4 separate regions of the Homo sapiens genome follow, and regions 1, 2 and 3 are each reported to be linked to region 4. Evidence: microRNA targets listed by miRTarBase, many of them from high-throughput screens and not tested one by one. Region 4 holds a microRNA gene; each other region holds the end of a gene's coding sequence.
The links. The annotated mature microRNA hsa-miR-26a-5p reads UUCAAGUAAUCCAGGAUAGGCU and lies in region 4 at 1,046-1,067, opposite strand. An mRNA with a match to its seed (bases 2 to 7 or 8) in the 3' UTR can be bound and repressed. Matches are read on the target gene's strand: a 7mer-m8 pairs with bases 2 to 8, a 7mer-A1 pairs with bases 2 to 7 and ends in A, and an 8mer does both.

Region 1 (3,172 bases), not on the chromosome of region 4:
ATATATATATACACACACACATACACAATATATATATATTTGTGTGTGTATATATTTGTATATATATATTTGTGTGTCTATATATACACACAAATGTAATACACAAATGTTGTATATATATATTTTTGTGTATATGTATATTTATGTGTGTATATGTATATATCACAGCACTTTTCAGAGCAATATAACAGAATCTACAACATAAACATTACAATGTTCAGGACACAATCTAAATCACTCAATATATGAGGGACCTCCCCCCAAAATCTGACCATTCTGTAAAGAGGAACAATGGAGACCAATTCTAAGATTATCCAGATGTCAAATTTACCAGAAAAGAATTTTAAAGCATAATTTAAACTCATTGAACATAGTTATGTGTTCTCTACTGAGAACACATAATTTTTTTATTTATGTGTTCTCTACTGAGAACAAATAATTTTTTTATTCACTATATAGTTATGTTCAATGTTTTGTTCGGTTATGTTCATAGTTATGTTCATCTGTTATGTTCAAGGTTCATAGTTTTATTCACTACATAGTTATGTTCAATGAAAACATGCATGTAGTGAATAAAAAAATCTCAGTAGAGAAATATAAAGAATTAGGGAGAAATTCTAGAACCAAATGATAAAATGTCAAAAATTAACTCTTCAGTTGAAGACTCCCTTTGGGAAATACTCCTTAATTTATTTCCTTCGTATCTCTGTTCTTTGGTCCTTTCACCCCTGGAACTCGGTCAATTTAGAAGGAAAAGAGACTAACTTAATTTACCTTTGGATCTTCTATAAGGGCACAAATCAGATCCACAGTTACTGATGTTCCAATGACATGTGAGATGCGAGTTGCAAAATAACTCATAATCAAAATTACCTCCGCTCAGTTGGAGATTGTTTCAAATGACTTTTATTTGTACCAAAACTAAATGGAAAATTGCTTGCTGACACTGTAGGAAGTTAATTTCTTTTTTCTTTGGGAGGCTTGACTTGAGAAAAAGAATTTAGTTAAGTTTGGTGGTGAAATTTTATATACAGTATTTTCATTTGGTGAAGATATGAAGGCCAGGACTAATAGCTCTTCTGCCTAGGATCCCTAATATTTCACACTAGGCCTGATAGTCGCTCCTACAGAGATGACATTTTTCTTTTAGAATGCAGTAACACCTACCAGGCCTCTGTAGGAGGCAGGCTACATACAATAAGGAAGTGTTTTTATGAGGAGAAAAATGATGCTCAGAGACAAAGCATCAAAGTCTTATTTTCTGAAGTGATTCTAACATGGAAGAATTTGGAAAAGATAATCCCAAGACTCAGTCCATTGTGAGTCTCCCATTGGTCCCGCTTCTCACTTGGTCACCAAGTTCTGCACACTATGAGACATATACTTCTGAAACAGCCAGCTTCCCAATCCCAAAGATACCTGGTACTCTCAAAAGCAGGGCATGATAGGCTAGGGCAGAAATTGGTTCCTGGATAAAACAGGACCCTACTCACAAAAAGCGATAATAAATACATTAAGAAAGACTACCAAACAAACCTGAAATGGTTTTAGAAATGGAGGTGATAGCTTCTCTGGGAGCAAGGAGTTATGATTATTTCACTCAATTAAAACAATGTCCAAAATATGAGAATGAAAGCTCCCAAACAGTGTTCTTAGCAATTTTGTAATGTGTACCAATGAAAATTGGTTTTCAGTATTAAAATGGACCAATGTCTCTGAGTTAAGAATTAGTTACTATATCAGAAACAGGAAAAAAAACAAAGTAAATAAGCTGAAAAACTAAAAAGCTCCTCTTTTTATCACAGTTCTTCCACATAAGGCTGATCAACATATCATCCAATGATATAAAATTCTAGAAACTTTACAAAATTCCTTTTTAAAATTTATTTTTTGTTATCAAAGAGAATGTCCAGAAACATTGAGTACTAAAGAATTTGTTCATGGCATTGTTTTACAAAATTTTCTAATGGAGAGTGAATATTTTATTTTCTGATGTATTCTTCACTTATTAATGATGAGGTCAATGAACTGATGCAATTATTTAAAAAAAAAAAAACAGACAACCTTATAAAGGAAAAAACAAAAACAAAAACAAAAAAAAACCAAACGTCCATTCTCATTCTGAATCTGTTGACTGGAGTGAATTCAGTGGTCACAATACCACCATCAAATAAGAATCAACTTCCTCAGAGTAAGGAGCTGTTCCGATCTTCTCAATAGTTCACACAGGTCTCTCAGATATAGGCACCATGTTTTAAGTCTCACACAAAATGTCTGTGTCACTTAAATTACACAATATGGCAGTGTTTGTCTTATGGGGACATACTGAAAGGGGCAAAGTAGAAAACAACCTGTTTGCATGTTATATGTGAGTACATTATTGTACTGTGCATGGGTATGAGGGCATTGCAGCCCTTGTTAAAGAGGAATTCCACCAATTGAAGCCTATGTCAGTTCCCAGCTGCTCTTGGTGCTGAGAGTATCTACTCATATAACCTTATTTTGTTAGATCAGAGCCCTCTTCATCTACAGTTTGGCTGAAATGGTTTGAACTGAGTTTGGTCGAACTGAGTTTGGTCGTTTATCTCTTCCATCTGAGCTTTATTTCTCAGCCTCAGGATATGTGGGGTACTTGACCGTTTCTATCTTCTCTCGAACTTTGTAGGAGGGATATAGGCCCGTCCTTCCCAATTTCCTGTTGACACCTTTAGAATAGCCATCCCAATGATTTCCAGCCACACCAATGATATCTCCAGGTTCCATGGGAATTTCATCTGCAGTTCGGGGTTGGTGAGCATAAATGGCAATTTGATTGTGGGCATTCTGGCCCCCAAAATAGTAGATGTCATCTAAAGAATGGAAGTTTGCAGAGGCATCAGGATGTAGTGTTTGCATAATTTCATAAGCAACTCGACAGACCTTGGGAAAGAATTTAAAAGAAATTGTTAGTATATAAACACTCTCCTTCACAGCAATCTAAAAGCCCTTGGCCAAAAGGATGGGCTCTAGGAGTAAGAGGTTGAAAAGTAGTGGATTCTAGTCACAAGCTTTCAGTCCATTTGTTCTCAGAAGATGGTACAAGTCATTCTTCATCTCTGTGTCTGGATCCTTTTTCAAATAAAGAAGAAAAACTCACGAAAGATTATTACAATTAAAATCTCTCTATCTCTAT
Region 2 (3,157 bases), not on the chromosome of region 4:
TTTAATAGAAAAACGGAATGTCAGAGTAAGAGGCTTATTTGATGGCCTTTTAAATATCTGTATCTTTCAAAATTGCTTTCCTGGAGTAAGGTGTAAGGATAAGAACATACAGGAGGAAACATACATTTATACTTCCTGAGGGTTCCAGTCTGGTTCCAGAGGGCACCTGGGACAGTGCTGAGAGAGGCAGTTTTTTAGTAAGGCTCCCGATAGGTCAAGTGACAGATGTGCCCCATCCTGGTGGAGCTGTCTAAGTAGGTGCTGTTGACAGGGTGAGGACTTCGTGAACCTGTGTTAGGCTCTCAGTTCTGAGTGTCTGTGCTTGAATTCTTATTCCAAGTTTTACAGATCAGTGATCCGTATATTTGGACAGATGATGAGATTGAAGCTAATAGATTTTTAGTAATATTATACATATTTTTTAAACTTGACTGGAAATGCTAACTAAAAACTGTCTTTGTAAGAGCCAGTTTTAAAAGATGTAACTCTCCCTCATCCCTCACAGAAGCCAAGTACAAGAAGCTGGAGAAGCGATGAGAAACTTATTTCTATGGGACAGAGTCTTTTTTTTTTAATGTGGAAGAATGTCTTATAAAACCTGAATCCTGAGGCTGATGAATTGTGAAAATTCCTCAAAAGGAAATTATGCTGGTCATCACAGGAACATCTCAACGTTCGAGTAAACTGGAGGACTGTGGCTATTCCTGAACCTTCTTTGAGACAGAATCCCTCAGAATCTCACACTTATAACTTCCTACCTTTTACTTGAATGCTTTGCCATATTCAGGACAGAGACTCTCACAAAGTTCAGAAAACAGCTGGACTTACCAGTAAAATCAAATGAGAGGACCTATTTTCTCTGGTAGTGGTTGATTACTACATTATTTTCTTAAGTGGCTGGTTTTTTAGTTACTATGTAAATGGTCGTTTTTCTGTTAATGATGCTAATGTGTTGTAAACAAGATTCTAAATTTAAAAAGGAAAACAAAACAAACTTGTTCTTTGCAGCTTATCACCTTGTGAATGTCGGTAACTTACTTTTCCATAATATTGCAAATAACATAAAATCTTAAAATAATTCCAAGCTGAGTCTTCTAGATTGAGCAGAAATGGTGAAAGGAGTATTGATAACTTGGCGTATGTGATGGGCCCCTCTTGTTTATTTTCTATGTGAGTCACATTGACATGCGATCAGTTTGGGAAATGTGATGAAAACAAAGACTAGATGGGTATGTGTGTTTATGTGTTGGGTAGGGAGGTGACGATTGCCACTCATAAAATAAAGGATTTTATAAAATACCTTCCTACTGTGTATGTAGGATTTGGGGGGATCTTAGGGACCTAATCGACTTCTTTGCACACTAAAAACATCAGACAATGGGACATACTGACTGACCAGTCTAGGTTGAAAGATAGGCAGCCTTACCCAGAACACAACATTAGCAGCTGGGAAGGTGTCTGAGGTCCCCAATTACATATCCCAAAGAGTTTCTTACTTCTGTTTCTGTCATTTCCCCTCTGTTCCAGACAGTCATCATTTATCCTCTGTTCTTCCTGGACTGTTGCTGTGGTCTCTTCTCATCTTAACTGTCCCTTCCAACCACCCTCCACACTGCTGCCAGAGCAATCTTAAAAATGTAAACTGGCCCTATTACTCCTGCTTAGAACCCTGTAGTGACTTATCATGGCCTCTGAAAAATCTAGACTTTCATTATGCATACAAGTCCCTTGTGTTTTTTTGTTTGTTTATAGACAGGGTCTCTATTGTCACCCAGGCTGGAGTGTGGTGGTGTGATAATAGCTCACCTTGACCTCCTAGGCTCAACTGATCTTCCCACCTCAGCCTCCTGAATAGCTGGGACTACCAGCACGCTCCACCATGCCTTGCTAATTATTTTTTATACAGATGGAGTCTCACTATGTTGTCCAGGCTGGTCTTGAACTGGCCTCAAGTGATTCTCTTACCACAGCCTGCCAGAGTGCTGAGATTGTAGGCATGAACCACCGTGCCTAACATAAGGCCCCTATTTAAACATTTTTCTTAAATAAAAAACAAAAGAATTAAACTGTAACTCTACTATCTTAACATAGAATCAGTCTTACCCCTTCTTCCAACCCTTTTCCTTTTCCGTGCATGTATTGATCTATTTTTTTTTTTTTTTTGAGATGAAGTCTTGCTCTGTCGCCTGGGCTGGAGTGCAGTGGTGCGATCTTAGCTCACTGCAACCTCTGTTTCCTGGGTTCAAGCGATTCTCCTGCCTCAGCCTCCCGAGTAGTTGAGATTTACAGGTGCCCACCACCATGCCAGGCTAATTTTTGTATTTTTAGTAGAGACGGGGTTTCACCATGTTGGCCAGGCTGGTCTCGAACTCCTGACCCCAAATGATCCACCCACCTCGGCCTCCCAAAGTGCTGGGATTACAGGTGTGAGCCACCGCACCCAGCCATGTTGATCTATTTTTAAAAAGTTTTTATTTCCTGTTACACTGTGTTCAGCTATCTTCAGCCACCTTAAATTCCCATGGATGAGTTTTCATAAACTTTTTGAAAATAGATTTAGATTTACGGGAAAGTTGCAAAGATAATACAGAATTTAATGGATGAGTTTTTTTATTGATGTGTAATAGATGTATGTATTTTCAGAGTACAAGTGATAATTTAATACATGTATATAATGTGTAAATATTAAATCAAGAGTTATTGGGATGTCCTTCACCTTAATATTTATCTTGTCTTTATGCTAGGAACATTATTTGAATTATTCTCTTTTACCTATTTTGAAATGTACAATAGATTAACATTAGCTATAGTTACTCTACTGATCTATCATAGGTCTTATTTCTTCTGTATTTGTGTCCACTAATCAAACTCTTCATCCTCACGTCCCCACCACCTTTCCTGGCCTCTGGTAACCACCAATCTACCTCCATCTCCATGAGATCCACTTTTTTAGCTCCCACATGTGAGTGAGAACATGTAATATTTGTCTTTTCTGTGCTTGGCTTAGTTCAGTTAACACAATCACCTCCAGTTTCATCCATGTTGCTGAGAATGACAGAATTTCATTCCTTTTATGGCTGAACAATATTCCATTGTGTATATATACCACATTTTCTTTACCCATTCATCCATTGATGGACACTTAGGTTGATTCCAT
Region 3 (3,172 bases), not on the chromosome of region 4:
TCTCTCTCTCTCAAAAGCTTACAGTGCTGGAAAGTTTTTCCACCACAGCAAAGCCACAAAAGCTTATCAGCGTAGATGCCATCTCAGAAGAGGCTGATACCAGGGGATTTACATATCTCAGCTGTGATCTTTCTGCTCCAAGCTGACCTTGGAAGATAGTTTGATGTGGTTAAGGGTGGAACCCCTTTTATTTAATCGTGTCCATAGCGTGGGTCTGCCTGTACCTATTTGTTATTAAGTGTGCCATTTGTAAGTCTGTTGTTATGCACTGGAGTTGTGAAGATGGCATTTTCTGTGTCATCCTTAACCCATAACCACAGTTCTTTGTGACATACGAGCAGTTGAAGAAATTGGATTTGTGACAAGCCAAGGCTGCATGAGACATCTTTCTGAAAATGGTAACTTCTGAAACAGCAAAGCTTCCTGTGTTTCACTCTGCTTCTCACTGCTTGGCTCATCACAGATTCTGGGATGTGAGCAACAGATGAAGACTGGGTTAGTTGAGATTGCTGTGTGTTGGCATTGGATGCTCTTCATCAAACGTTTAATGGCATAAACTAACATCCAAACACTAGTCTTTACCACTGAAGTGCCCTTCAACATCAAAGATAATATGTGAAATGCATGTTTCTTGCTAAAGAAAACTTGCAAGAAAATCAGGAGCGATGTATTGTTTTATTCAGGGAGAGTAGCTCCTGATGCATCTCAGCTCATGACTGAGAATCAGACTGCTCTAGAAAAGCTCACTGGAACCATGGAATGGAGCCTCCGAGAAGGTGTTATGGTTTCTGAATTTCTGGGAGATTTTGCTCCTTGTCAACTGAAGAAATTTCATGTATGGAGACCTGGACTGTTCAACCCCAGGTATAAACGGTGCAGGAAATGGATCCTAGGAATATCACACTGCTTTATCATTTCCTATTTTGGCAGGATCTTCCACTTATAATAAGTGATTTTAAGCTTTGAAGACTTGACATTTGTGAGAAATTGTTACAAAGTAATAATCTCTAAATTCGTGGTGGTGTTATGTGTTGGCTTTGAAGGTTGCAAGGTCTGTATTGGTGGGGGGTGTTTTCAAGCAGCTTAGGTTCTGTCTTAGGTCATGTTAGTAATTAGCTTTATGATTTTTAGCAAAGCATATGTATTTCTCAATGAGTAAAATGGGGATAATAACGTCTATTGATGTAGAGGGTCAAATGAAGAACAAATAGTAGCTGCTGCTACTTGACTGGAAAGGTAAATGTGTTTACATCATGCTGTGGAACAGCTCTAAACAGTCTATGTAGAAGAGGGGCATGTTCTCATGGGCTTCTCATGGTAATTGTGAATGAAGCCCTTTGTTAAGGTCTTGTTGAAGAAAGAACACTGTATAAGTTCAGGCTTTAGTACATTTTCCTTAGCAAAATGTTGGTAGTGAATCAAAGAGTTGATTTTTCCAGGTTTCCAGTTTTTACTTTAGTTTATGTTGTGCCTGTCTTGGACTTTCTGTTTAGTTTGGATGGAAAATACCTGCTTGAAATTTTAAAAATGATTTCTTTAGTGCATCTATTTAGCTAGTTTCTGATAGGTGGTATGTAATATTTTCCCTTTTTCTTTCCTTCTGTAGACACAATAAGTCATTCTCCCTCTTCTTTTTTTCTTTTTCTATTTTCTTATTCTTTACTCTAACCTGCTTCAGAGAAAGAGCCCTCTTCCTTCTTGTCTTCATCTTAGTCTTTTCAAAATAAAAGATGACTGTGAGAACCCCAAGAACTTCCACTTCTGGGAGGCAGCCACAGGACAGGGAACATATTTATTTGGGTCTCTTCAGTTCCCCCTTTGAGAACAACATTAAATACATGTTAGCTGGGGCTCCAGGGCATTCTCCTTCCACAGTAGTGCGGCCAAATTCCCAGTCTGGCCAGTCTCTTTGTTGAGACTGAATAGAAGGACTGCAGGTTTTTTTGGAGGATGAGATAATTTTTCCTCGCAGGCATTTTTCCCTTGCCTTCCTTATGCATGAATGGTCCCTTTGAATATTATTTCCAAAAGTGAGAGCTAAGACAAAGTCATCAAAAAGAGAGGATAACAGAAGGTGGGGGCGGGGGCGGGGTGCAGTGGGGTAGGGTTACCTGTTAATTGCTGAGACTCAGATGAAAGTCCAGCTCTCCCTGGGCAACCCTAGAGGGCAGCAGAGGACCCCAGAGCTCATTCAGGCCTTGCTGCTTGTTCTAAACTACACCTTAGGATTTTTTCTTCTTTCCAAAACATTCCATTGATTTTATAAAGACTTTCTATAGAGAGGCTTTCACTTTTGAGTTCTTTGAGTTTAAAGATTGCTTTTCTTGAAATGCTCTTTTTTTAATGTAGAAAAATTTTACTTTTTCAAATATGCATACAATTTTTAAAACAGTAGAAGCAAATTCATTTTAATGACCATGTAAAGAGCGAATGTCAGACAGTATTATTACCAGTTTATTCAAATTACATACATGTTCCTACCAAGGTGGAAAGAAATTCAAACCTCATGGTAAAACTTAAGCACGATTTAAGATAAAAGCATAGTATTTCTTCAGTGTAGACTTATTAAGTGCCTTATTGAACAGGATCTTAACCTGCTTTTTCTGTTTTTTTGAAAGAGTTAATGCAATTGTTGAAGCTTCTAACCAAGAAACAACTTAAGGAATTGGGAGACTTGGTCCCCTCGTTGTCAGGGTTCTGGCTATAAGTACCTCCCCACCTTTGGGTTTTCTTAAATATGCCAAAAGGAATTCTAGTTTTTATAACCAATGGGTTTTTTTGTTTGTGTGCTTATGGATTTGTGTAATCATTGATGCTTAATGTTGTGGATTCATAATATAAAAAGTGGCTCCTGTCCTTTATATTTATTCATGTGCTAGAAATAGTATGCATTATATAAAGAGTATGAAGTTTTCATAAGCCTTTATATTTCAAGCTCTTTATTTAAACATTGTTGGAATATGTGGCATAAGCCTTGTTTCATTTATTTAATAAACTGGAGTAATATATAATAATAAAAATGATTTCTGGTTATTTCAGATAAATAGAAACATTCAAACAAAGGCAAACTACATGGAGTCTAGAAGGCTGGAGTAGAAATAGTGTTGCAGCTGCAGACATTTCTCTCTGCATGGAGAAGTTGCTGGGATAATCTTACTCATTGCCTGGCACC
Region 4 (3,172 bases):
GCAGCTGCCCAAGGCTGGTGTAGACGTCCTCTGCTCCGCTCAGCTCCTCAAAGATTGGGATCAGGTTCAGCAACTCAGTGTCTGCCATGTCATCAAACCAGGACTGCACAGGCACCTGGTGGGGGGAAGATGTGGTGTCAATCTCCCGACTGCTGCTTCCCCCTCCCTCGCCCCAGAGCCCTAGAGGGTGGCTGGGTCTTCCTGGAGGGGTGTACTTCTCTGGTGGAGCCCACAGTTCCAGTCTGCTTCCTCTCCCAATCCCTACCGTGGAGACGCATCAGGAGCACTCACTGCATTCTCGGGGTGGAATATGTAAGAAGCAGGCGAGTTGTCCAGGATGAGGGTCTTTCTCAGGTCCCTCCCCAGGCGGCTGAGGTCCTTGACGTAGCAGCCCTGGTGGAACACGCAAGACTCACGGAATAGGCGGGCCCGGAACACCCCACACCGGTCCAGCAGGTCTGTCACAGGGTCGGCATACTAGGAGGAGAGAAGATGCCTTAGTTTGGATACACTCCTGGTCCTCCTGTATAACCCTAGGGACCAAAAGGGAGCTGCTGGACCACCCCCGTGGCCACCACACCCACTCCTGGTTCTTCCCTCTCACCCCTAGGTACCTTGGCCAGGCTGGCAGTGAAGAGAACACATTCAAAGAGTTCCCCCATGCGTCTCAGGAACTCATCCACATAAGGCCTCTTGAGCACATACACCTGAGGAAGAGCAGAGCAGCCTGTTGGAGGCATCCCTGTGATGAAGGTTTGCAGTACTGGGTACCTTCACCAGTTACACAGCAGCAAGGAGCTCTCAACCCCTGCAGCCCAGCCTCCTGGGCTACCTGGCTGGAAGCCTGCGGCCCCCTGAGACCCCACAGACCCGGAGAACTGGCTGTACCCCTCACCAGGCTTCCAATGGATCAGTGGTCCCAACCTCAACCTGGCTCAGGAAGAAGCGCACACACCATGTCCCAGGAGCCATCTCTGTTTCCGGCGGCGGACCATCAGCTGCCTCCAGAAACAAGTAATCAAGAATAGGCCTCACAGATGGAAACAGCCTATCCTGGATTACTTGAATCCAGCCACAGCCTCTATGGGAGCTTTCTGTCCTTGGCTCCGACAGGACAGTCTGTCCAGGTCATGATTAGGTAATGAATTGCACCAGGGAGAAGTGACTTTTTCCCCTCAATGACCATAGACTAGACAGACACCCTGCCGAGTCTTGCTCTGCACCCGATCTTGTGCTTGCTTCTGCCAGCCACCACTAACACCTTTGTCCACCCTTACGATCTTGCACATTTTGGGAAGTCCTTTGGCCACCTGACCCCCCATCGGTCTGCATTCTATTGCTTCCATGACTCTAGCCTACACAGCTGCTACTAGAACCATTTCCAAAAAGGTCCTTTTTCTTTTCTTTATTTACTTATTTTTTTTAGAGATGGGGTCTTGCTATGTGAGGCCAGGCTGGTTGTGAACTTGTGGGCTCAGGCATTCCTCCTGCCTTGGCCTCCCAGAGTGTTGGGATGACAGGTGTAAGCCACGGCACCTGACTCCCAAAGCTCCTTTACCTGCATTACTCCCGAGCTCAAAGAGAGTCGGCCTGCTGTGACTCTCCCTCCTAGAGTAGGCCTGAACTGGCCACCAACTCACCAGACCACTCAGAGCTCTGCAGGAACCCTCTGTTCTAGGCAGCCACAACTTAACTTCTGTTAGCCTGCCATTCCTTCGACCTCCAACAAGCCCCTTCCTCATCCCAGCTTTCATCAAGTCTGGCATCCTTTCACCCACCTTGGGCAGGTAGTGCTCCCTCATTTTAATCTCATCCTTTTAAAAATTATTCATACCCTTCCTTGTTAGCCAGGAGTTCACAGTGTATATCTGTTTGAAAATATGCCTTCATCTTTTCTACAAGGGTTTAGCACATCCCTATACCCTCAGCTAGACTGTCAAAGGGCTGCTGGACCAAGCCTAGTCCTGACCGGGGCCTGGCGCTGGGCATGGCAGGCCTTCTGGGCAAGCAAGCTGAGTAAATGGTCTTTCACTAGCAGTGTCACATGATCCTTAACCTGGGACTGCCTGGGCTGCAGGCTGGAGCCTGGTCTGTTTAGATTTGAGTGCTCTTTACATTGACAGACACACACTGAGCACTTCCTCAGGCAGAATCCAATGGAGGGCCCCAGGGAAGGCAGTCAGAGAAGGCTTCACAGAGGAGGAGATGTCTGGGCTGGGGAGGAAGAAAGTCACTAGCTATTCACAGTGGGGGTGGCAGGGGGAGCATGGGCAAGAGGGCATTCCGGGCAGAGAAAATGGTTACTACTGATTTCCCTGCCTGTTACAGGCAAAGAGATACCTGGTTAAGGTATCTTAACAGGTATAGATACCTTTCTTAAGGAACAGAGAAATGTAATAAATCATTTAACAGTGCTGGCCACGTGAGGGGATGGTGGTTAACAAACGATAGCTATTATTATTATTAAATAAAATGTAAACTATTCTTTTAAACAGCTTGGTTGCAAAGAGAAAACAAGGGAGACAGCTGGGTGGGATATGGGGCTGAAACTCTTTTTTTAAGGTGAGAAAGCCTTGAGTGAAAGATACCAATAAAAAGGGGAGGCTGGAGTTATAGAAAAGGGATCAACTGACAGAACCCAAGCCCTGAGATGGGTGGAGGACCCCAGTACAGGTGAGGCAGAAGGCAGACCCCCCACCCTCTGGGCTGGGTGTGGTCTGGCTGGCAGCTCACCTGGTGAGTGGTCCCCTCAATCTCTATAGGCACTATGAAGTCAGCATTGTTGATTGGCTGGAAGGCAGAAAAGTTAATGCTGTCAGCATGGTGGCAAAGAAACATGAGGCCCCCACCATACCCCTAGGTGGGTGGGGAGAAACAGGTCTTAAAGACTCCTGGAAGTGCCTCTGGCCACCTCATTAAGGGGTTCTCACCCTAGTTCAAGATGTGATACCCCATTCTGGTTTTCCCTACTCCTTAGCACCTCCACTCTGACAAATTCTACCTGGGCTGAGAGTTTTGGGGCCTGAGTTTCCTGAGGAGACAAGCAGGGGCAAGGGCCAAAGGTGATCCAACCACTCTTTTAGGCCTGCCCTGTACAGAGCCCTCGTGGCTGGCTTTCTGTGCTATGTGGCTCGGGGGCAGATGCAGCCTGTTGGGAGTGACTGGAGATAGC

Region 1: the mRNA of FUT8 is a reported target of hsa-miR-26a-5p. The part of its 3' UTR that is shown has no 7-base or 8-base seed match.
Region 2: the mRNA of BLOC1S2 is a reported target of hsa-miR-26a-5p. Seed matches in the 3' UTR shown: 8mer at 763-770.
Region 3: the mRNA of SLC25A30 is a reported target of hsa-miR-26a-5p. Seed matches in the 3' UTR shown: 7mer-m8 at 1,222-1,228.

What each region holds. Positions count from the first base shown.
Region 1 is chr14:65,741,840-65,745,011 of GRCh38, reverse strand. FUT8 (fucosyltransferase 8) reads right to left here. Exons shown (of 11, transcript NM_001371533.1): 11 at 891-2,919. The coding sequence ends at 2,602. Among named protein-coding and RNA genes, the nearest start is that of MIR625, 270 kb to the right of the region's middle.
Region 2 is chr10:100,272,842-100,275,998 of GRCh38, reverse strand. BLOC1S2 (biogenesis of lysosomal organelles complex 1 subunit 2) reads left to right here. Exons shown (of 5, transcript NM_173809.5): 5 at 506-2,706. The coding sequence ends at 537. Among named protein-coding and RNA genes, the nearest start is that of CWF19L1, 6.8 kb to the right of the region's middle.
Region 3 is chr13:45,393,164-45,396,335 of GRCh38, reverse strand. It overlaps SLC25A30 (solute carrier family 25 member 30), which reads left to right. Exons shown (of 10, transcript NM_001010875.4): 10 at 321-3,020. The coding sequence ends at 362. Among named protein-coding and RNA genes, the nearest start is that of SLC25A30-AS1, 23 kb to the left of the region's middle.
Region 4 is chr12:57,823,613-57,826,784 of GRCh38, forward strand. It overlaps MIR26A2 (microRNA 26a-2), which reads right to left and starts at 1,080; the gene lies at 997-1,080. It overlaps CTDSP2 (CTD small phosphatase 2), which reads right to left. Exons shown (of 8, transcript NM_005730.4): 5 at 2,734-2,790; 6 at 615-707; 7 at 292-477; 8 at 1-115.